Homo sapiens: one gene and its partners. The protein of the gene in region 4 interacts with the protein of the main gene of each other region in a pairwise test. Each region holds a gene or a part of one and is shown on either strand. Other genes may lie near its edges. The genes, in order: IGFN1, MOS, GFAP, GOLGA2, TTC23, RHPN1 and ZNF250.

What was found.
Region 1: the proteins of GOLGA2 (region 4) and IGFN1 interact in binary tests that used the Homo sapiens proteins (3 or more experiments, as listed by UniProt).
Region 2: the proteins of GOLGA2 (region 4) and MOS interact in binary tests that used the Homo sapiens proteins (3 or more experiments, as listed by UniProt).
Region 3: the proteins of GOLGA2 (region 4) and GFAP interact in binary tests that used the Homo sapiens proteins (3 or more experiments, as listed by UniProt).
Region 5: the proteins of GOLGA2 (region 4) and TTC23 interact in binary tests that used the Homo sapiens proteins (3 or more experiments, as listed by UniProt).
Region 6: the proteins of GOLGA2 (region 4) and RHPN1 interact in binary tests that used the Homo sapiens proteins (3 or more experiments, as listed by UniProt).
Region 7: the proteins of GOLGA2 (region 4) and ZNF250 interact in binary tests that used the Homo sapiens proteins (3 or more experiments, as listed by UniProt).

The regions. Positions count from the first base shown.
Region 1 is NC_000001.11:201,189,566-201,193,623, reverse strand, and holds the start of IGFN1 (immunoglobulin-like and fibronectin type III domain-containing protein 1), read right to left. Parts: upstream 2,801-4,058; 5' UTR 2,717-2,800; intron 378-2,716; 5' UTR 331-377; coding exon 324-330; intron 1-323.
Region 2 is NC_000008.11:56,112,442-56,115,118, forward strand, and holds MOS (proto-oncogene serine/threonine-protein kinase mos), read right to left. Parts: upstream 1,542-2,677; coding exon 501-1,541; downstream 1-500.
Region 3 is NC_000017.11:44,905,501-44,909,000, forward strand, and holds part of GFAP (glial fibrillary acidic protein), read right to left. Parts: intron 2,650-3,500; coding exon 2,564-2,649; intron 1,889-2,563; coding exon 1,847-1,888; 3' UTR 1-1,846.
Region 4 is NC_000009.12:128,269,508-128,273,007, forward strand, and holds part of GOLGA2 (golgin subfamily A member 2), read right to left. Parts: intron 3,359-3,500; coding exon 3,278-3,358; intron 1-3,277. UniProt on the Homo sapiens protein: Peripheral membrane component of the cis-Golgi stack that acts as a membrane skeleton that maintains the structure of the Golgi apparatus, and as a vesicle thether that facilitates vesicle fusion to the Golgi membrane.
Region 5 is NC_000015.10:99,159,082-99,162,581, forward strand, and holds part of TTC23 (tetratricopeptide repeat protein 23), read right to left. Parts: intron 2,787-3,500; coding exon 2,659-2,786; intron 1-2,658. UniProt on the Homo sapiens protein: Participates positively in the ciliary Hedgehog (Hh) signaling.
Region 6 is NC_000008.11:143,371,876-143,375,375, reverse strand, and holds part of RHPN1 (rhophilin-1), read right to left. Parts: intron 1,645-3,500; exon of another isoform or gene 1,242-1,644; coding exon of another isoform or gene 1,083-1,241; exon of another isoform or gene 1,079-1,082; intron 1-1,078. UniProt on the Homo sapiens protein: Has no enzymatic activity. May serve as a target for Rho, and interact with some cytoskeletal component upon Rho binding or relay a Rho signal to other molecules.
Region 7 is NC_000008.11:144,884,454-144,887,953, forward strand, and holds part of ZNF250 (zinc finger protein 250), read right to left. Parts: intron 2,450-3,500; coding exon 2,387-2,449; intron 1-2,386. UniProt on the Homo sapiens protein: May be involved in transcriptional regulation.

The DNA of each region.
Region 1 (4,058 bases), on a different chromosome or scaffold from region 4:
AAAAATTAGCCAGGCATGGTGGCAGGCACCTGTAATCCTAGCTACTCAGGAGGCTGAGGTGGGAGAATCACTTGAACCTGGGAGGTGGAGGTTGCAGTGAGCTGAGATCGCGTCACTGTACTCCAGCCTGGGCAACAGAGTGAGATTCTGTCTCAAAAAAAGCCAACAACAATAAAAATAAAATAAAATAAAATAAGGAGAAAAAAAACAACAACAAGATGGGCAAGTTCCCAGAAATCTCTGATCCCTACCACTTCTCTCCTCTCTGTCCTGGTAAGGATCGCCAGGGAGGGCTGGGGAGGGGAGATTAGTTCTTCTCTTACCTGCCATAGTTCTGCCTCCTCTTTGACTCCTCTGAGGGTAGAAGTTCTATTACCCTGAGAACAGAAATGGAATTGCTTTTGAGAAATCCAGGCTGGTCTCACCCCACCCCTCCCACACCATCAGTGCATCAGCCAATGTCTGGGGTGGGAGCTGGAAAAAGCTGCTGCCCCCAAGAGCTTTTCTAACCCACTAATGGCACTGATTAGTTTCCTGCAATTCCCTGTCCCCAGCAAAACCAATTTCCCAGAGACCAGGGAGTGGGTAGCATGCTACCCAGTTGGTAACATTCCCAGGTAAAGGGAACCATAAGCTGAGCCTGCACACTGTGCTGGTGGCCTGGCCTCCTGGTGGGACCCCAGACCTGATTACCCTGCCCAGAACATGAGACACAACCCTCCCAAACCTGAGGAAATCAGACCCATTCAGGATCCTTTCAGCTGTGTAAGGATTCAGCTGTGAAAGGATTTCAGCTGTGAAAGGATTCAGGCTCCTTTCAGCTTGCCCCATTGGCTTTGGAATGGGAATTCTCCAAGGACATTCTTTGGGCCTCCTGGCTCTTCCCCCAACTCTGAGATTTTCTGGCAGGACACTGAAGCCCTCTACTTCCCACGCTCCACCAATCTAGAATCCTTCCAGTCACAAGGTCTGCAGGGGAGAGGCCTCAAATTTGCTGCTCTTAAGCTCTTCTTGGCCCAGGCCTGTAGGATCCCCATAAATCCATCTGCTCCCCTCAGAAGCCAGTGAATTATAGTGTCAGGTGAATAGGAGTATTTTCCATTCTCTCACCACCACCATCTCTCCTGATTTCCTCTTAATTGCATCCATCTGTTATGGCCAATGGGGAGTCCCACACAGGAGAGGAAGGGGGTTGGGTCTGGGGTGGGATGAGAGCCATAAATCAGGGAGGGGGGATGTCTTGAAAGAATCTTCCAGCAGTCCCACCCTCTGTGCGATTGGCCCATGGCCAAGCGGTTCCATTTTGGGGACTCCATTTTCTGCCCAAAGAGCCTTATCATTAATATAGAATCACACATGACAGAGCAAATTCCTCTCTCCCATGGAGATCATTCCATTTCGCAACGGCCACCCACTGGCACTTCTGACCCCTGGCAGCCCCTCGCCAGCCCAGCCGCTGCACCCTAGCGTGCTGGAATGCCATGGTACGCCAACTGCGTTCTGGAGTGGTCACGGGTGCCACAGGCACTACGCCGAAGGGAGTCACGAGGAAGGGTGGGAGGGAAGGCAGCCACCAACGGATGAGGACCCAGCTGGACACGGCCAGGGGGAGGGCTGCAAGGGCCCCCATCCCACCCACCCCTCAGTGCAGCCTCCTGGTAGATGCAAGTGCACTGGTGCCAGTCGGTGACCCCCACACTGGAGTAGTTTGAGTTCAACACAGCTATCTGAGTCATCATCCCCATCGTCACCCACATCATCACCACGAGCAGCTATCATCCTGTTACTCAGCTATTGGTCACACATGAAGAAGGATGACGCTGATACCACTCTTCTCCCTCCAGCCTCCTGCCTACAGCTCCCAGCAGAGGAGGGCAAAAGAAGCAAAGCTCTTGGGGGAACTTAGGGATGTGACGTTAAGCATCCACTTCTGGAGCTCCACTCTCTTTTAGAATAAGCCAGATTTGGTACAAAGTCAATGACACAGGGAAAGAGATCTGTTGGATTGGAGACTAGAGGGATGTAGTCTCAGTTGGAAGGGATGAGAAAGGAAATGAATTCTCTCCTCCATAATTCATTCCCACATTTGAGAAGAACTCCAGTTCTTCCCAGAAGGAAACAGCAGTTTGTGTCCTCACTTCAGCTGTCCCAACAACACTCTCAGCACTGGATCCTGGGACAGTCCCTCCCTGCCCCCTCTCCAGGACCTATGGCTCCCCATCCTTTTTCCCTACCCTCCCCGGATCCATCCTGCACATCCAGGTCCCTGCTACCTCCAGTTGGTCCCTGCTACCTCTCAACTGGTAGAAATTGAGGCAGGAAGAGCCAAATGGAGTTCTCTCAACTGCTTTGACCATGATACTAACCAAAATATAACAAGTCCCAGCCCGAGGTCCTTATTCTGGACTGCTAGTGATATTTTTAATCTGGTCATCGTATCACACCCAAAGTCAAGCCGTGTCCAGAAAATTAGAGCCAGGACAGAAATGCCCAGACAGGACACACTGAAATTCTCTCCTCCAGATATCCTGGAGTAACCTAGAGGGGATACAGGTGCACCCCAGCGTGTGATCCGCCAGCCAGGGAATGTTCCCCAGGCAGACATCCTGCCCACTGCCTGCCCCTTCCTGCGTAGAAAAGCTGGACAGCAGGCTAGTGTCTCCATCCTGGCCCTACCCTGGCCCGGGTGGGCAGCCAGGTGTGAGCACCCACTTACCTGGGTGTACAGCTGACCTCCCGCTTCCTGTCTGCTCCCTCTTCCCCGTTTCCAGCTGCTGCTTGCTGAGGCTCTGGATTGACTGGTAGTGGACAGGCAGGGCTGGAGCAGGTGTCGGTTGCTGCAGGCGCCTCTGCTCCCTCTGCCCCTCCCACTCACCCCGCCTCCTCCTTCTCCTCCAGTCCAGGCTTGGCAGGGCAAGGCCCCCAGGGCTAACATTCTAGCTCAGAGGAGGTCAGAGATGGAAGGGTCCTGTGACATCAGTCCATCCAACTCCTCGCTTTGCAGAGCTTTAAGCTCTTAACCAGACTGGCTTAGTGTAAATTTGCCCCATGAAGCCTCATTTATACGACCCTTTTTAGCAAGGACATTTTCATCATCCAAACCCTTAACTTTTCAGCTAAGCTGGTCCCTTGGGACCTTTGACACCATAAGTCACACAGATACATAAGCCACTGCCCTCTTGGGAATCACACCTCCAAGTGGTATCAAACAGGCAGCAAACTTTGGGAGTGGGAGGGAAGGCAGCCATTAACGGAGTCACAGACACAGAGTCCACCGAGAGTGACCAGGAAGGAGGAGACCCTGGGAACTGTGTAGTCAGCAGGCCTGCTGGAGAAGGTGAGCTTGCTCAGGAGCTTTTCAAGGAACAGAAGGGGTGACCTGACCAGCAGGGTTGGGGGCGAAGTCGGCAGGGCAGATGGTTGGGTTTTTGGTCGGACAGATGGATGGCAAGTGGAAATTGGAAATACAATGGCTGGTAACAGATTTTCTTAAGGAGAGTGGAGGGCAGGTGAGGCCCAGGAGATAAGGCCACCTGGTGTGCTTTGAAAGAGCCACCTTCTCTCTCCTTAAGGACAGAGAACTGCTTTGTTGCCACCCATAAGCGAGGCTTGATTGAGGATTCAGGTGAAGTAGAAGGGAAATGGGGTGAATGTTTGCATCCAGGGGAGGACACTGAATATTTACATGTGTTGATTAGCATCTTGCCAATTTCTACAGGCGCTACCTCTGGATGTGCTCCGAGAGGGGAGGTGTTTGACCTCTTCTGCGCAAGTACGTGTATGTGTGTGCATGCATGCACACACACATACATTTGTGTGTCCTCCCTGTGTGTTTCTGAGTGTCAGGGCTGGTCTTTCATTTGTTCAACAAACATGTGTTGAACACCTACCGTGGGTTGAGCCCTGGCTCTGGCACTGTGTTAAGCCCTAGGAATACAAAGGTAAGCAAGTGACAGGGCCCTCCCATCATGAAGTTCACAGTCTAATGGGGCAGGTAGATGTAGGGGCTCCAAAGGAGACAATGGAGAGTGTGAGGGGAGGGCTGGACCTTGGAGAGC
Region 2 (2,677 bases), on a different chromosome or scaffold from region 4:
ATGTACCTCAGTGTATGACTTTTATGAGTGAAGGTCATTACAAACAAGAAGTTTTACTGGGGGGAGTAGTAGGAAAGCATTACTTATTTTTTTAAAAGTTTTTACTGATTTGGTGTGGGAGCAACTACACCATTAATAGTTGGAATTTATGTGGTAGGTATGGGATATATATGGATTTATAGAAAATTTTGACATTTCTGCAGTGGAGTTCTATTTTGGACAAACTTTTATCAATAACAAATTTAAATAAATGAAATACTAGCAATGGAAAGCAAAGCACATGACTATATGAATAAGATTAGTTACTAACAGTACTGAGACAACAGGTACTAGACTTGTAGCTTTGCTAATGTGTCCTAGAAAAAGCACTGGAGACTAAAGGAGTTTTTAGTAACTTTATTTTCTAAAACTCCATCCTACAAATATGTTTTCTTCGACATCTCCACTTCCTTTAAAAACAAATAGAATCAGACAAAAACTTATCTTGACCAGGTTTTCAGTCAGCCGAGTTCAGCTTTCAAAGAGGTGAGATCCACCAAAAGCAGCCGCGCGCTCGGCCTCTGCGCCGCGCTGGGTCTCCAGCAGCGCTGGATGACGTCCCCAAGGCGCTGCCCGGGGAGCGAGTCCTCGAAGACGGCAGCGGAGAGGGACGGGCGCAGGTCGTAGGCCACCACCGCGTACAGTATGTGCTGCCGCTCCCCCGAATACGGCGCCTGCTTGGTAGTCATTTGCCAGAGAGTGATGGCAAAGGAATAAATGTCGGCTTTAGGCGTCACGCCCTCTCCTTTCAGGAGCTCCGGGGCGCGGTGGGTGTATGTGCCTCCTAGAGGGTAAGAGGGTGTCTGGAAGCACAGCAGATCTTCCAACTTCTCAGAGCAACCGAAGTCACTAATTTTACAGACATCCTGCTCACTGATCAAGATGTTCGCGGGCTTCAGGTCCAAGTGCACAATGCTTTGCGAGTGGAGGAAGAGCAGGCCGTTCACAACATCTAGTGAGTACTTGAGACACTTTCCCAAACTTAACTGTCCTCCAGTGCGGCAGTGAGGCTCCCCTGCGTCCCCCTCAGGGTGGCCGGCGGCGCCATAGATGACTTGGTGTAAAGTGACGTTGCCACCGAACTCCATGATGATGGTCCCTAGGCTATTGGACCCTGCGGGCGTGCGCGTGCTGGCAGCCACCACGCGCACGATGTTATCGTGGCGCAGCCTTGCTACGTTGAGCTCAGCCCAGAAACTCCGCCGAGATGCTAGTCGGTTCTTGGTGCACTTGTTCACTTGCTTTATGGCCACAGGAACACCGCGGTAAGTCGCCTTGTACACCGAGCCAAACCCTCCAGCTCCCAGCCTCTGCAGCAAGCACACCTGCTCCCAGTCAATGGAGCACCAGGCCAGCCGGCGCGGCAGCCGCGGGGCCCGAGGAAGAGTGGCCCCCAGAAGCAGCTTCGCAGGTAGCTCTGAGGGACTGCTGCAGGGCCGCGCGTCCACCGATGGGGAAAACTCGCTCCGGAGGTAGGGGCGTAGGGCCAGGGGCGAGGGCATCGCACTTTGCAGGGGGACACCAGGGCCGCTGGAGTGAATGAAGAGACTAGGGGAAACCGCGGGACTTTGGAAACATGACTGACTACTCCTTCGCTCCACCTCATCCCTTTTCTCCTTTTCCTTCACTTGTTCCAAATGAGCTACATCTGTGCTGTCACTCAGCAAGAGTTTTTATCAGATGGAGGGAGAAACCGGAATGAAGCACAGCTATCCCTTTCAGATGAAAGCATTTCCCTTCCACACTTGAAGTGAATTCTTATAAAAACAAGCTCATGCCAGACAAACAGCATGGAGCTGCCTCAGAACTCACCCCTCTTTTACATTATTTCTTAAATTATAATAAAATACGTTTTTTTCAAGTCTCATCCGCTGCACATTATCAGTCCTCAGACTAAAGAGACCACAAAGCACAATGAAATTGTTTCACACTTTGCAGGCTGTAATGATTGTTAGTGTCATTCTCCAGCTGCATTAAATCACTTCCAGCAGGTATTGGCTAAGAGTTAAAATGCAAACAGCAGACATTTGTTTAACCAATTACAGGGAAAAACTAGGTGCAACATTCATATGGATAAAAAATTGCAACCTTAATCAATCCAAATAGAATCACTGATACAGGTCATAACACACACCTAAATTCATCAGTGGAAAGGAGAATCCCCTGACACTCTATGCAGCTTACACAGCAAATTAGCAAGACATCTTAGCAACATACTGACTTCCTAACAATCCTTCCCTTCCAAGGCGATTTGGCCCAACCGGTCAGCTCACTTGCAAGAGAGATTCTAGACTTCGTAGCAAATGAGTTACCGAAGTTTTGAACCAGAGTTGGGGGAGACAAAAGAATAGAAATGATTCAGAGCTGTGATCAGGGCTTCAAATAATAACACATATGGGAGAATTGTAGAAGAGGAAAAATCTGAAGAAATAAAAATGGCACAAAATCACTGGTACCTACATATAATGTAGAAAACCAGAAGTTGGAATGAAATTCAGGGTATTGGCCATCAGACAATAAGATCTTTCTTTCTGATTTTTATAATGAAAATTAATTTTCTACCAAGTGCAGTGAGTTATGCCTATAATACCAGTGCTTTGGGAGGCTAAGGTGGAAGGGCCACTTGAGGCCAAGAATT
Region 3 (3,500 bases), on a different chromosome or scaffold from region 4:
TGCGGGTGGAATTTGGTGAGGGCATGGGCCCCAGAGATGATCAGTAATAAGAAATGAGTTGGTCTTGTCAAAGGCTACATCTTGGCCCCAGTCCCGCCCTCTCATGAACAGATCAGAGTCCACTCTGGGGAAGGGCGCAGCATTTGTCTTTATTTTTCCTCAGCGACTAAAGGCAGCAGCAGTGCCCTGAAGATTAGCAGCAGCAGCAGCAGCAGGTGGCAGGAAGGAGTGGAGGGAAAGGACACCAAGTCTTGGGGAGAGGGAAGGACCCTTCTTCGGCCTTAGAGGGGAGAGGAGAACCCTGAAGTGGGCCCTCCCAGTCCCATCTCTGGGCACAGATCCCACCAGTCTGCTCACCAGTCTGCTCAGTCAAAGCAGAGTGGGTGCACTGGGGTGGACGTGTCAGCCCTGAGCACCCGGCCTCCAGGCTGCAGGAATATGAGCCAGTGTCTTCACTTTGCTCGTGCCTCAGTTTTACAATTGTAAAATAGGGCACTACCTAGAATACTGGGTACATTTTGTGTGTGAGTAAGAAGGGACCGCAAGAGGCCCTTGGCTTAGGGAAAAGCAGCCGGTCACTATGGGGTGGAGAGGGTCAGACGTGTGGCAGTGGCTTACTGGGGTTAAGAAGCAGCAGTCCCAGGGGCTCAGAGGCTGGGGCGGCCTGGTATGACACAGCAAGGAAGAGGCCTTTAGAAATGGGACAAAGTCATGCCCTGCCCCCATGGATACATCCCCTTTCTCTCCTGTTTCAGCATCTTCAAGAGGATGAGTCACTTCCTTAATTCCCACAATCCAGAGGCCAAGTGCAACTGGTCACCCACAACCCCTACTTGTATGCCTAGCGCCATCCCAATTGCCTCCTCCTCCATCTCTACCAGCGTCCCCTCCAGTCTGCACGGGGCAGTCCTCCTGGGCTTGACCTCTCTGTACCCACAGCTGGGGGCCAGGCAGCCCCCCTCTATCCCTCCCAGCACCTCATCCCTCTCCACGTACACAACAGATCCCCCAAGTGCTGAGAATCAAGCTCCCACCTGCCCACAGCGTGCCCACAGATGGCATCCCTGGATGGCAGCTCAGGTGGACTGAGACACTTGAGTCATCGCTCAGGAGGTCCTTCTGGGATCTGGGCAGGTGACTGCCCCAGGTGGCAGGACGTCCCCACCCATCTTAGACTGATCAGGGTCAGTCTAGGAGAACAACCCTCTGAGCTGGGCATGGTGGCTCCAATCTATAATCCCAGCTACACAGGAGGCTGAGGTGGGTAGACTGCTTGAGCCCAGGAGTTCAAGGTCAGCCTAGGCAGCATAGGGATATCCCACCTCATAAAAACCAAAAGACAAAACAAGCCTCTGGCCAGGGCTACCTTGTCTGTGGGGCCTTCCCTTTCCTGTCTGAGTCTCAGTTTTCCTCCAGCAGCCTGAGGAAACTCAAAGGCACAGTTCCCAGATACTCCGAGAGAACCTCCATCTCTGGCAACAGTTTCCATAACAACAGGAATCAGGGATGTGGAGGGCGATGTAGTAGGTGCCCCCCGCCCTCCTCCCCTTCTCTCCTTCCTCCTCATTCTAACGCAAGCTGCTGGCCATGCCCCTCCAGACTGCCCCTTGGGGGTGAGTTTCTTGTTAGTTGGAGTTGCTGGGTGCTGGGTGGGTGCCGTCTGGCAGGCCTGATACTGACGGAGCCTAGGGCAGCAAGCTGACCTAGGGACAGAGGAGGGAGGGGAGCAGCTGGGGTGGTGGGGAGCTCAGGTCTGGGGAAATGTGCCAGCAGAGGCGGAGCAACTATCCTGCTTCTGCTCGGGCCCCTCATGAGACGGGGCAGAGGCCACCAGGTGGGTCCTGCCTCACATCACATCCTTGTGCTCCTGCTTGGACTCCTTAATGACCTGCAGGGGACAGGGAACGTGCACAGTGCAACAGTTAGGAGTTCACACAGACCCCAGGTCCACCACCACGAGGCTGTGTAACCTTGGGAAGTCCCCGACTTCCCAGGTCTTACTTTTCTTGATAGTAACCACAGCTGCCTTGCGTGGTGGACAGAGGGGGTGGTGAGATAACACTGGGAAAGCATTTAGCGTCATGCCTGGCGAGTGGTAAGCTGCTGGAGTAAGATGAGCTCCCACTGTGGTTGGAGTGGCGTGGCGGATACGCCAAATCCCCTCTTCCCATTCCCCTGGTAGTTTCCTTTTACCAAGCTGGAAATGGAAAGCCCTCCCCATCCCCAACTGTGTCTGCTAGAGTTGGAAGTGAAAGCTACTAACTTTAATTCTCTTTCTCTCCCTGGCAAGCAAGGCCCCCGAGTTTGAGGGTGAGAAAGAGAGAGTGTGTATTAGGATCCCATCTAGTGGCTTTGGTACCAAGGCTCCCCTTAGAACAGCCTATGGAGGGACTGAGGAAACGGAATTACATTCAGTTTCCTTGCTCTCCTCCAGAATTCCCTGGGGAGCTACTGGGAGTTGCTGGGAACCTTCTATGTGCCAGCCCCAGGCTTTCCTCCATGGCCTGGCCTTGAGAATCCCTGGGGCCAGCCAGAGCCTGACTGGGCCCAAATCCCTCCTTACCTCTCCATCCCGCATCTCCACGGTCTTCACCACGATGTTCCTCTTGAGGTGGCCTTCTGACACAGACTTGGTGTCCAGGCTGGTTTCTGCAGATGTGGGGAGAGGAGGCCTCTCATGGACTTTCAGGGCATGAGCCATCCTCTCCCATGCCCGGCTTCCCCATCGCACCCCCCTCCCCATCATGAGTATGAGAACCTATGCAACCGAGCAGAGAGAGCCTAGGCTCTTCCAAACGGGCTGGAGAGCCCCCAAATCCCAATAGTGCTGCTGCCAGAGTCCTGGCTGCTCTGTCTTCTGGCCTGGCTTCATTTCAGCCCCTCTGCAAGCCCTGGCCTGGCACCTGGCTTTCTGAAAACCCAGCACGGTATTGAAATCAGGAGACCAGGAGGGGTGCGGTGGCTCACACCTATAATGCCATCATTTTGGGAGGCTGAGGCAGGTGGATCACCTGACGCCAGGAGTTCGAGACCAGCCTGGCCAACATAGTGAAACCTCTACTAAAAATACAAAAAATAGGCCAGGCATGGTGGCTCACACCTGTAATCCCAGCACTTTGGGAGGCCGAGGCAGGTGGATCGCCTGAGGTCAGGAGTTTGAGACCAGCCTGACTAATATGGTGAAACCCTGTCTCTACTAAAAATACAAAAATTAGTCAGGCATGGTGACAGGTGCCTGTAGTCCCAGCTACTCAGGAGGCTGAGAGAGGAGAATCACTTGAACCTGGGAGGCGGAGGTTGCAGTAAGCTGCGATCGTGCCACTGCACTCCAGCCTGAGCAACAGAGTAAGACTCCGTCGAAAGCAGGCAAGCAAGCAAGCAAGCAAGCAGGAAAGAGAAAGGAAGGAAGGAAGGAAGGAAGGAAGAAAGAAAGAAAGAAAGAAAAAGAAAGATTAGCCAGGTGTGGTGGCTCGCACCTGTAATCCCCTTACTCGGGAGTC
Region 4 (3,500 bases):
TAGGATTCAGAACTTGGGGTCATGTGGAGCCTCTCCCTTGCCCCCAACTGGACCTACCTGCTTGATCAGAGCCCCACCCAGCCTCTCTCCAGGCTCTGACCTTACTCTTCGCCCAAGCCTCTGGTTCTAGAGATCTTCTAATATCTGACAAGCCAGATGGGCAGACAGTGGAAAAAGCTGGCTGACCAGCTAAGCTGGACAAGAGAAAAACACCAGGGAGCCAGGGCCTGGCCACGGAAGCTGGGTCTGGGAGAAGTGACTACACCTCTCTCCAGGGAAAGGACTGCGCGCTCACTGGACCCTTCAGCCCTGGCTTCTGAAAACCCAAATCTGCTTCCCTCCTTAGAGCAAGTGCTGCAGAGGCTGGTGGAACTGAAGATGAGCCAAGCTGCCTTTGCATCTTTGCAAGTTTACTGTGACCATGGAACCTGGTGTTTCCTTGACAATGCCTACAACTGAATCTAATAGGTCAGAGCAAGGGTTCAGTTGCTGGCCAGGCATTAGCCTTGAGGGAAGGCTGGCACTCCTAGCAATGGACCCTGCTAGGCTTTAGGGCCCTCCTGGCATCTTCGGTTCCCACTGATCTCTAGGATTAGACACAAGAATGCTCAGAGGAAGGGAATTTTTTTTTTTTTTTTTTTTTGAGATGGGAGTCTCACTCTGTCGCCCAGGCTGGAGTGTAGTGGCGAGATCTCCACTCACTGCAACCTCCGCCTCCTGAGTTCGAGATTCTCCTGCTTCAGCCTCCCAAGCAGCTGGGATTATAGGTGCACGCTACCACGCCCAGCTAATTTTTGTATTTTTAGTAGAGATGGGGTTTCACCATGTTGGCCAGGCTGCTCTCGAACTCCTGACCTCAGGTGATCCACCCTCCTCAGTCTCCCAAAGTGCTGGGATTACAGGCATGAGCTACTGCACTTGGCTGAAAAAGCATTTTTCTGAGGACTTTCTGACACACATAGCATGATTATTTTGTGAGCAACCAAGTTATTTCATTATTTTAAGTCTTGTAGCCAAGATGGAGTTTTTAAAAAAGCCTACTCTCCTCAAAATGTCCCATCCCATTAAGATATTTTTTCTCTCTCCATTATTCCCTACTTCTGGAAATGTTATCAGCTCCGCTCAGGATACTACGATCACAGGCCTGCATTCCTGGAGTAGAAAACTTACATGGTAATAAAAATGAGAAATTAAAAAAAAACAAAACCTACATTGGAAACAGTTACGGATATAGAGAAGGTATAAAAACAGCAAGGGGCTGGGCATGGTGGCTCACACATGTAATCTCAGCACTTTGGGAGGCCAAGGCAGGTGAATCACTTGAGGCCAGGAGTTCGAAACCAGCCTGAGCAACATGGCAAGACCCCATCTCTATTAAAAATACAAAAAAAATGGCCGGGCGTGATGGTGCAACATCTGTAATCCCAGCTACTTGGGAGGCTGAGGCATGAAAATCACTTGAACCCGGGAGGGGGAGGTTGCAGTGAGCCAAGATCACACCACTGCACTCCAGGAGAAAGAGCAAGACTCTTTCTCAAAAACAAAAACAAAACAGCAAGAAGGAAATACGGGGATCTAGGCCTTTGTTTCCAGAATAGAGGGACCTGGGCTGGCACAGAATCTCAGAGCATTAGGAAACAGGCTGAAGACCCCCTAATCCACTGGACCATTGGCAGAGCAAAAGCCAAATGCTTTTGGCTGCAGGTCACCTCTAAGCCTGTGCTCCCCAGCCGTACCACTCAGCGTCTCCTCTGAGCTGGCAAGGTGAGTCACAGCACCTGGACAGACCTGATCAACTGGAGGGTAACAGGTATGAGACTGGACAACTCTCTAACAGCAGCCAAGGCTGCTCTGTCTCAGTCCCTCTCCCCATACCCATCTCCAACAGGATCAGGCTCTATTCGTGCCCTGCTCCTCTGGCTTGGCAGGAAGGAGTCCCCCAGGTGAGTTAGAGATGGAAGAAATGCCAAATCACAGCCAGAGGAGGTTGTCTCCCAGCCCTGTGTACCTCCATGCCCTGCCCCCCACCAGGCTCCCTGTGTTCCTGAAAGGTGCTCTGTGAGTTCACACTCTGGCCACGGCCTCACCGCTCCCCCTGCCTCCCCCACTCCCCATATGGATTAATGTTACCCACCTTTAATCTTCAAGCCAGCTTCAAATGCCACCTTCTCCAGCCTGGAGTCCATTTGGAACCAACCTCCCCCCGAGCTGAGCATTTGGAATGTTCCAAAATTCTCTCTTGCCTCCTTCAGAGGAGTCTGCCTCCCTCGGTGTGCAGCCTACCTTGTTCATCTATTTTATCCACTGTTTATTTATCAAAGTGCCTTTGTTGTCAAGAGCCCAATGAATATGGCTAAATGTCCATTTGGAGAGATTAGGGGCAGAACGTCTTGGTCACTCATCTGTTTGGTTAACCTCACAACTTTTACAGTTAGTTCCTCTGAAAAAATAGCTTCAATCCTTCCAACTATAATGTGAACTCATTTTCTTTTAACCCTTTGTTCCCTACTCTTAAACCAAAGTGAATTAATTTAAAAAAAAAAAAAAAACACTAACTTCTAGGTGGTTTACTGATCTTTGCCTTTAGGGTAAAACCTAAAGGTCTGTTGGTTTTTTTGTGTTTTTTTTTTTTCATCTCTCCTAGTCTGAGAGTACCCACACTGGGCATTCAAAAGCCCAAATCCCAGAATCCCAGACTGGGAGCAGTGGCTCACGCCTGTAATCCCAGCACTTTGGGAGGCCAAGGTGGGTGGACCACTTGAGGTCAGGAGTTCAAGACCAGCCTGGCCAACATGGTGAAACCCCATCTCTACTAAAAATACAAAAATGAGCCAGACATGGTGGCAGGCACCTGTAATCCCAGCTACTCAGGAGGCTGAGGCAGGAGAAACACTTGAACCCAGGAGGCAGAGGTTGCAGTGAGCCAAGATTGTGCCACTGCACTCCAGCCTGGGCAGTGAGACTCCGTCTCTGAAAAAAAAAGAAGAAAAAAAAAAGCCCCAAATCCCACACACCTGCTCTAAAAGTTATTCCCAAATTACCTTTAAACTTTTAAACTTTAAGATATGTCTCACCTTCTCCAAGATGATAAAAGATTTGGGGGAAGAATAAAAACCCAATCAATCAAGCAGGTGAAGAAGCGGACATAAACAGGCGGAAGGTTAATGGCAGCAACATAAAATAAGCCAGAGGCAAAGTATCCCCCAAACCAGAGAAGCCTCAGGGGCATGCACAGCTGGAGAGAGCAAGCCAGAGAGGGGTCTCGGCACTGCCTCACCTTCCACTTGTCCAATGGGGGGAGCGCTACCCCATTGGAACGGTTAAGGTCGGACACCAGCACCTTCAGAATGTCCTGAATCTACAGGAGGCGAAAAGGGAAAAACAAGGGCAGGGGGAGAAAGGTAGAAGTGGCTTAGAGAGAGGCAAGAAAGTCAGGGAAGGAGGAAGATGTGGGTTCAGGGAAATGAAATAAGAAGAGTGGAGGAGATCAATACCATGGC
Region 5 (3,500 bases), on a different chromosome or scaffold from region 4:
TTTGCTAAAATCTTCGAGGGCAGCTTAGGAGAGTGAGGTGCATCTTTTGATCAACACTGATCTGGGTGACTTGGGCAAGGGCAGTGAGGCATAGCATCAGTGACACTGAGCATTGGCTGACTCAGCAAGACACTATGGTGGGAAGCCAGGCAGTACAGGGGAACTGATGCATGGCCCACAGGAGTCAGAACAGTCAGCTGGCCTGTGGCCAAACATGCATCCACCTCTCTGCTCATCACTCCTCACCACAGGCAAGAGGGTCTCTGCTTTCACAGGTTCGGTCTAGTTGCAAGATAGATGTTAAATATCCACATGAATATATACTTACAAATATTTGATGACATCAAATGGATTCTCTAAGGAAGAATAATGGGGAGTATCTAATGAAGCCTGGGGAGAGGAATCAGAGAAGCTGGTAAGAAATGAAGAATGGGTTAGCATTGGCCTGGAGATGAATGAGGAAGGGCCTTCCAGGAGGAGGAAACAGAAGCTGGCACTGCCCGGAAGTGGGAATTAGAAAAGGCCAGTGTGGCAGGAACATGGATCAGGGAGAGGAGGCAAAAATGAGCCTGGAAATGTCAGTGGAGTCCAGGTCGTGGACGGTACTGTGGGCCATGTCAGGATTCTGGTTTATCCTGAGGGCATCGGGGAGCCAGTGGACTGGCTTTTACAAGTGAGTGTTCAGTGGTCAGATCTGCTTTTTGGAAACATCACCATGGCTTCCTTATTCTGAGTGGATTAGAAGAGGGCAAGCATGGAAAAAGCAGCTGAGAGATAGGAACTTGTTAGAGCGGTCCAGGCAAGAGATGATGAGTGGCAGGACTAAAGATGGAAAACAATGGATGCATTCAAGATCTATTTTGGAGGAAAAAATGGCTGAGGAACTAGATGGAGTGGGGCATGAGGGGGCAAACCTACCCCATTATTCTGACCTGAGCACTCCCCTTGTCTTCTAGAGATGTGAGGGGGGAATGGGGAGGGAGTCTGAGGCCCCTGGAAGGCCCCTCTCTCTCCCTGGGGTTGGGTGACTGAGAAACATCCTGAAACTCCAATTTGTCCTGGTGATTGTGGCCCTACTTTGGCCTGAGAAACATAGGTATATCGGCATAAAAGCCCGTGTTCCCTAGCTGACAGAAGGCGGGGGTGGAGGGGGGATTAAGGATGAGAAAAGAGCTGTGGGGGAGGAGGTCTACAGACGGTAAGGGAAATAAAGTTTTTCATTTCCAAGATTTGCCATGATAGGTTAGAGTTGAAAAAAATACATAGTCAGCCCTCCATATCCATAGATCAAAAATTATATGGGAAAAAACAATAAAAATAACAATACAACAATAAAAACAATACAAATAAAAAATACAGTGTAACAACTACTACCATAGCATTTACATTGTATTAGGTATTATAAGCAATCTAGAGATGATATAAAGTATTCAGGAGGCTTTGTCTAGGTTATATACAAATGTGACACCATTTTGTACAAGGGCTTGAGCATCCTTGGAGTTTGATATCCTTGGGGGCTCTGGAACCAATCCCCCACAGATACTGAGGAACAACTATATATATATGTGTGTGAGTGTGTATATATGTATGTATGTATGGTTTTCTAGGAAATTGAGATGGCGTTAACCTCTGATAAGAAAAGCTTAACAGAGGCCGGGCGCAGTGGCTCACGCCTGTAATCCCAGCACTTTGGGAGGCTGAGGCGGGCGGATCACGGGGTCAGGAGTTCAAGATCAGCCTAGCCAAATGGTGAAACCCCAACTCTACTAAAAATACAAAAAAATTAGCTGGGCATGGTGGCGGGGGCCTGTAATCCCAGCTACTCGGGGGGCTGAGGCAGAAAATTGCTTGAACCCAGGAGGCGGAGGTTGCAGTGAGCTGAGATTGCACCACTGCACTCCAGCTTGGGTGACAGAGCAAGACTCTGTCTCAAAAAAAAAAAAAAAAAAACTTAACGGAGAGGAGTGAAAAGTAAACAGGACTTAGGTGCGCTGAGAAGAGGGTGTGGGCATACATGCACACATACATATATACATATATATGCACACACATATATATAATTGTTCCTATCTGTGGGCGATTGTATATATATATATGTATTAATATGTACACACACACACATATATAAAAACATAAAGCAATGGTATGTTAGGCTTTGCAGGGAATGCATTCCCAAGGGTTTAATTCCCAATGAATATAAGGTCTGGGTCTTGCTCTATTTTCATAAGCCACGTAAATCACGCTTGTACGAATCAATACTAAACAACTGAGCTGTAACTTCTGCACCGTATAGTTTTCCTTAGACATGCAAACTCCATTCATTACCCAAACTGAGGAGAGAGGGATTAGACACACTAACTGCCACACTATTCCAGCCAGATCTGCAGGACTTCAATAAGCAGGGCCTGTCCACTATTTCTTTAGGATCTTTTGTAGGTGGGCATGACAATCTATATTCTCATAAAGTCTCCCAGCTTCTAAGAGCAAGTATCTCTGGAAGCTGCCCCAAAGGAGCCCTAGCCTTATTTATGTGTCCCTCTAGAGACTGGCACATGCTTTGCACACAGTAGATGCTTAATGGATGCTTGCAGAGTAAAGGAGTTGCCCTTTGGATATCAACTGTGAATAACTAGACAATTGTGATCCAAACTCACTTACCTCTTTTTGTCCAGTCATTTGTAGAAAATGGCAAAATTCATCTTGAATTGAAAGAAATTTGGTTCTTCCCATCCCTTCAGAATCCTTAAGATGAGCCATGCTCTCTTGAAAATACTGCTCAGCTACATCTGAAGAAAAGCATTTATCATAACTTTGAAAACTGCTCACAGATTTGAAATGGAAACAGAATAAATATACTGTTAGCAGTGTTGAGCTATTTGGAAAGAGGTATTGGGACAAGAAAAAACAGTTAAGACTGTCCTTTGCCCATTAATCTGCCTGTTTCATTAGAAAGGATTTAGGTCTTGAAGGATACCGTAATTTACTTTCTTTAATTTTCATACATCTAGCTTTCCCGGTGATACATAAAGAAAAGTTACTGCAAAAGAAGAAACTATGCCCCACATCTGAACACACTGGTAAGTTTTCAGGTTGATCAACCACTAATTCTTCCTATAACTTTAGTTATAGGGTAACTATGACTTTACTGAGGGTAGGACTCTGAAAGTTCACTTATTTTGATGGATTTGGAGTATAATCTTGGTACATATTTCTAAAACATGAAAAATCTGGAAAATATTGCTGACATGCCGCTGAGGGAAGAAATCATTCAAAACCCCAATCATTCCAAATACTTCAACATACTGGTTATAATATAACACAAATATTTTTAAATGCATGCCAATCTTGAATGCAAGAAAAAGAAAACCTCAGGTATGGAAAATGACGAGAGAACTAAAAGCCAGAGAAGTGAGCGGGAGCTGAGGTTGAATGGCCCGTAAGCATATTAGAAAAAAGGTCCATCTACTAGTACTGGGGTTTTCTAAGCCTGAGCAGGACTA
Region 6 (3,500 bases), on a different chromosome or scaffold from region 4:
TGGCCAGAGCAGGACAGGAGGCAGTCAATGCAGAAGGACGTGGTCGGTGGGGTAAGCTGCTGACTCGTGATGGGGGTCAGCGGGGGAGGCTGGCACCTGCCAAGGACACCAGAAGCCAGGGTCTCACCAGGCAGCCTGGACAAGTAGGGGCTCCGGGAGCCCTGCAGGAGGCGGCCCACTGCTCCTCACAGCCTTCCTTCTGCGCTTCTGGATTTCATTCTGGATCCCCCCCTTGCCCCTCCCAATTTTTTTCCCATCCAACTCACCCACGCCTCCAAATCATTCCCATGTGGGTTTAGGCGTGGGCTCAAAGGACAGGGTCCCTGAGGCTCTGGGGGCGGCCACTGGCCCCCGATGGTTGGTGCAGAGGCTGCGGTCTGACTTTGGGAATGGTTCTCGAAGCGAACGCACACCCGTGCCCTCCCTATCCACAGAGAAATGACTCTGAGCCTTGCACCCAGACTGCAGCCCCGCGGCCCTGCCCAGCACCAGCCATGGCGAAAGAGTGGGGCGTGCCCAGCGGGGCCCCTTCTGGACTTTGATGGCTCCTGTGTCGTCAGTGGTGCCAGCGTGCTGGAGCTTACATTTCACTCTAGGGAGATCCAGTTTCATGCCTCAGCCCACCCCACCCTTGTGGTGTTGGGGTCCTGCCCACATGATCCTCACGTGTCCCTCCCTCTCACCATGGCCTCCCAACCCCCACTCTTCCCCGTGGCCATGTGGGAATGCCTGGGTCTCCACCCGGACAAGATTATTTGCAGCTACCTGTGGCTGTCCCCTGGGTGGGCTCCCAGGCGTGGGCTGGCTGGCTTGCCTCTCCAGCACCCACTCCTTCCATGCTTTGAGACCCACAGTGCTGCTCAGGGCTCACTGCTCAGGGACACTGACTCCCACCCAGCCCTGGGGCGAGCCTGGTCTGAGTCAGGCGTGGCCAACCTGGCCATTTCTGCCAGTCAGCAGCAAGACAAGGCCTCTGGTGGCTCCTGGGACTGCTTCCCGCCCTTGTCGGGAGACAGGACCTCTTCTTCCCCAGGACCTTGTGGCGTCTGAAGGTGAATCTTGCCACCATGAAACTGACCTACCACTGCATGAAGCTGCGGATTCATGGGGCCAACGTGCACACGCACTGGGTCTTCCCCTCTGTGGACCCGACACCCTCTCCACGCACACACGTCTCTCAGGCCTTCCCGTCTTCCCCGTAAAGAGCTCACACGTGTTTTCCTGGGTTTTCTCCTAGATATCTGGAGAGAGTTCTTTTTGCTAATGTGAACGAGATCTTTGTGTGCATTTTAATTAGTTTATTCCCATTATACAAGAAAGGTTTGATTTCCTAGACAGAAGGCCTGCTCGTCCAGCCCCCCAAAATCACAGCAGCCAGCTGAGCGGGTGACCATCTATTATGGGTGAATTGTGTCCCCACAAAAGACAGGTTCAAGTCCTGACTCCCAGTACCTGTGACTGCAATTTTTCTAGAAATAGGGTCTTTGCAGATATAATGAGTTAAGATGAGGCCACCCTGGAGTAGGGGGTCCTTAATCGCAGTGACAAGGGTCCTTATACGAGGTGGGGAATTTGAACACAGTCACATGGAGGTGGCCATGGGAAGGCAGAGACAGAGACTGGAGGATGAGGCACCGTCCCCTGGAACCCACGCCATCCCCCAAATCCCCGCCCCGTCCCCTGGAACCCGCGCCATCCCCAAACCCCCACACCGTCCCCTGGAACCCACACCATCCCCCAAATCCCCGCCCCGTCCCCTGGAACCCGCGCCATCCCCAAACCCCCACACCGTCCCCTGGAACCCACGCCATCCCCCAAATCCCCGCCCCGTCCCCTGGAACCCACACCATCCCCCAAGCCCCCGCCCCGTCCCCTGGAACCCGCGCCATCCCCAAACCCCCACACCGTCCCCTGGAACCCGCGCCATCCCCAAACCCCCACACCGTCCCCTGGAACCCACGCCATCCCCAAACCCCCACACCGTCCCCTGGAACCCACACCATCCCCCAAGCCCCCGCCCCGTCCCCTGGAACCCGCGCCATCCCCAAACCCCCACACCGTCCCCTGGAACCCACGCCATCCCCAAACCCCCACACCATCCCCTGGAACCCGCGCCATCCCCAAACCCCCACACCGTCCCCTGGAACCCACACCATCCCCCAAGCCCCCGCACCATCCCCTGGAACCCACGCCATCCCCCAAGCCCCTGCACCATCCCCTGGAACCCACGCCATCCCCAAACCCCCACACCGTCCCCTGGAACCCACACCATCCCCCAAGCCCCCGCACCGTCCCCTGGAACCCACGCCATCCCCAAACCCCCGCACCGTCCCCTGGAACCCACGCCATCCCCAAACCCCCACACCATCCCCTGGAACCCGCGCCATCCCCAAACCCCCACACCGTCCCCTGGAACCCGCGCCATCCCCAAACCCCCACACCGTCCCCTGGAACCCACACCATCCCCCAAGCCCCTGCACCATCCCCTGGAACCCACGCCATCCCCCAAACCCCCGCATTGTCCCCCAGACACCTGTGCCATCCCCCAAACCCCTGCGCCATCTGCTGGACACCCACGCCATCCCCCAGACACCTGTACCATCCCCCAAACCCCTGTACTGTCTGCTGGACACCCGCACCATCCCCTGGACACCCAGGCCGGCAGCCTCCTGCTGAGTGCTGGGGTGAGGGAGCCTGACGGAGGTCCCTGAACTGAAGATGAGTTGGCGCTTAGGGGCCGGAGGGAGGGACACAGGCGGCCGGAGGGATGGACACAGGCAGCTGGAGGGAGGGACACAGGCAGCCGGAAGGAGGGTGTGCCGGCCCAGGACCCTGGCCTCCCCCAGCCCAGCCCTGCCCCCGTGGACACCACCCAGCAGCGGACGGGCCGATGTGCACTTGGGAACCCTCACCCTGCTCCCGTTTCTCACTCCCGCCTCCTCCAGAAAAGAAATTCCCTCCAGAGCTGCTTCAGGGACTCGGGCTGGAGAGGCCCACAGGTGGGAGAGGGGCATGGGCGCCTCAGATCTGAGAAGCTCCCTGAACCTGAGGCCCGCCCACCCCCGCCTCCCATCCCTACCTTTCCCACCGGCGCTACCACCTCGAGGGCCTCTGCCCAGTACCTAGGAGACCCCCGTGCCACCCACCGCAGCTACACCCCCTCCCCGCAAAGGCCCCGCTGCAAGGCTCCAGCAGCTTTAAGGGCTCTGGCTGTGCGACGGGCATCAGACACCCAGCCAGGTCCCTGCTCCCCTCCTGGCCCCAGGAGAGCTGCGGGGAGCCTGGCCCCTTGGAGCCCCACAGGCACCTGCTGTGGGCCTGGTCCATTCCTCGGCCTCCCTACCCGCAGTGCTCCCTGCAGGCCAAGTGACTTCCCGGCCTACAGGCGGAGGAGCAGACCCGAGCCGGACCTTTGAGGCTGGGTAGACCTTGGAGGTGGGCGGCCCATGCCCCACTTTCCACACTGGGTTGAAGGTTGAGCCCAGTGGAAGGGGCATAGA
Region 7 (3,500 bases), on a different chromosome or scaffold from region 4:
ATGTTGGCCAGGATGGCCTCAAACTCCTGACTTCGTGATCTACCCACCTCGGCCTCCCAAAGTGCTGGGATTACAGGCAGGAGCCACGGCGCCCGGTCCTGAATTCTTTTCAAATGTTTTTTTAAATCATGAAGCATGCTTCTGTGAAGATTCTCCTATGTTTCCTGGTGCTTACACACAAATGTCCTTGCTGTATACATATGCAAGAGTGGGAAGTGGTGAACATAGGAATTCATGTTTTCGATTTTTTTTTTCATTTTTTTTACCTCCATTCTCTCAGAATGTGATCATGTTTTCAATTTCATTGGATAATGCCAAACTTTTCCAAAGTGGCTATGTGAATTTACATCCCTATTAGCTGCCCTGCATCCTCACCCACATGTTATATTGTCAGATCTTTCCATTTTTTCCATTCTGAAGGTGTAACATCATGTCACAGTGGTTTTGATTTCCACTTTACTGATGAATAATGAGGCTGAGCAGTTTTCTTATTTATTGGCCCTTTGGTTTTCCTAATCTATGCAGAAATTTGTGCCTACTTTTCTTTTTGGGTAATTCTGCGTCTTTTTATTCTATTCAGAGGAATTTATTAAGTGTATTGACAAATTGAAACAGTGAGAATTTAACAGTTTTTTTAATAAAAAAATTTAAATTCACTGTCTTCAGTTTAATACAATTTTTTTGAGACAGAGTTTCGTTCTTGTTGCCCAGGCTGGAGTGCAATGGCACGATCTCAGCTCACCGCAACCTCTGCCTCCCAGGTTCAAGCGATTCTCCTGCCTCAGCCTCCCAAGTAGCTGGGATTACAGGCATGTGCCACCATGCCCAGATAATTTTTTGTATTTTTAGTAGAGATGGGGTTTCACCATGTTGGCCAGCTTGGTTTCAAACTCCTGACCTCAGGTGGTCCATCTGCCTCGGCCTCCCAAAGTGCTGAGATTACAGGCATGAGCCACCACCCCCGGCCCAGTTTAATACAATTTTTAACATATCTCATTTTAGAAAGTCACTCTATGTGGGTTTTTTTTTGAGACAGGGTCTCACTCTATCACCCAGGCTGGAGTGCAGTGGTGTGATCATGGCTTACTGCAACCTCAACCTCCTGGGCTCAAGGAATCCTCCTGTCTCAGCCTCCATGTGGCTGGGATTACAGGAATGCACCATCATGTCTGGCTAATTTTTAATTTTATTTTGTAGTGTGGGGTCTCAGTATCTTGCCTAAGCTGGCTATGTGTTTTTTAAACTGATAGAAGTTTTAGTTCTTTCTTTTTTTAATGTATAAGCCTCATCTTCATGGAATAAAAGCCTATAGGCTAAAGAAATAGTTACTCATTTACACTGAAAAGTATTACTTCTATTGTCTGAAGTTTCACCCGGTGTGGTGGCTCATGTCTGTAATCCCAGCACTTCGGGAGGGCAAGGTGGGAGGATCACTTGAGGCCAGGAGTTTGAGACCAGCTTGCGCAACATGGTGAAACCCCGTCTCTACAAAAATTAGCTGGGCATGGTGGTGTACACCTGTGGTTATAGCTACTCTCGGGAAGCTGTTGTGGGAGGATTGCTTGAGTCCAGGAGGTTGAGACTGGTGAGCCGTGATTATGCCACTGCACTCCAGCCTGGGCAACAGAGTGAGAGCCTGTCTAAAAAAAAAAAAAAAAAGTTTCCTGAATGGGCGGCTTCTGACCTGATGCCAGGGTAACAAGATAGACAAGATGTCTTTAATAATAAAAACACAGGCCAGGCACAGTGGCTCATGCCGGTAATCCCAGCATGTTGGGAGGCTGAGGCAGGAGGATTGCTTGAGCCCAGGAGTTTGAGACCAGCTTGGGCAACACAGCAAGACTCTGTCTCTACACTGCACTCCAGCCTGAAAAAAAGAAAACACACACACACACTAAACTAACTGCATAAGAGACTACTCGCTCAATCATCCATGGCACGAAAGCATCATATGACTGCTTGTGAGACAGAATCAAGTTGCTGTGAAGGCCAAACTTGCCTGCACCTTGCATCCATACTGTGCAGAAGCTGGACTTCAGCCAAGAGTCACTTGCTTTTAGAATAATGGTTTTGGTTGTTAAGTATAAAGTAGGGAAGTATGTTTTAAGCATGACGGAACAAATAAAAGGAAACAAAATGATTTCACCGAAATAAATGTTTAATTATAAAAACCCAGTAATCTCTCTAGGCCTACTATGGCTCACAAGAAAAGGAAAAATGTTTTAAAAATTAAAAACACAAAAAGCCCCTCCCTGGTGTTTTGTAGCAATTGTGTGAGTTGTTTAACACGCTTCATAGCACCGAGTCGCCTCTACATTCTTGTAAAACATTAGTGTTAACACCTTCAGAGATTGTACTGAATTAAAAAGATCAGGCATACACTTACCCCATGGACAAGATAAACTGTCTTGTTGTGTACAGGCTGTAGTGTGGTCATATTTGAGGTTGTCTGGAAAAAAAACAGCGAGTTGAAGTGACAACAAAATACTCCCTTCAAGAGTGGAAAATCCTGGCCGGGCATGGTGGCTCACGTCTGTAATCCCAGCACTTTGGGAGGCCAAGGTGAGTGGATCACTTGAGGTCAGAAGTTTGAGACCAGCCTGGCCAACATATAGTGAAACCCCGTCTCTACTAAAAAATACAAAAATTAGCTGGACATGGTGGTGCATGCCTGTAGTCCCCACTACTAGGGAAGCTGAGGCAGGAGAATCGCTTGAACCCCGGAGACAAGAAGTTGCAGTGAGCCGAGATCACACTACTGCACTCCAGCCTGGGGGACAGAGTGAAACTCCGTCTCTCAAAAAAAAAAAAAAAAAAAAAAAAAAAAGAGTGGAAAATCCTTTCGTTGCTATTACAACATGTAATTTACTGAGTTACAAACAGCAGGGTCAGGGCTGGGCAGGTGCACACACTTATCCATCCTGAGGAACTGCCAGGACAAGACAAAGGCATATCTACTCCTCGCTTGCTCTGATGCTAGTGGCAGTGATCCAGGTTGTGGCAGGTGGCTTCTGTTTCTATGCACATCAGTAATCTAAAACTCAGTCCCATCGTCCTCTGTGGCCTGTGTTAGAGGTGAGGGGACCAGGTGCTTCCATGAAAAAACTTCTCATCTCCAACCAGCCATGCTCCCAGAGAATTTCACAGTCTCTGTGGTGTCAAATCAAAGGGCGCTCAAAGGCAGTTTAAGCTCTCCATCAGGCGAGTACATAGCTGGACACAAGGGAGCCCAGGACTGGTTTGGCAGTGGCAGCAAAATGCCCTCCTGTGTTTTCTTGTCTCCTACAGCTGCAGTCAGTAAGCAGAAGTTCTATGCAAGATTTCCAAGACATGATGATGTGTCTTCTTGTATAGTCACTGGAAAATTAAATTCCTCTAAGGCTGGCATGTACCTTGTTCCTCTGAGGATATCTGATTTTGCAGGCCAGTAAGAGGTAGACTGTAATACCTGGTGCCCTATCCACATAAAGCTACTTTAGAAATAAGGAGGAGCTTTCAAG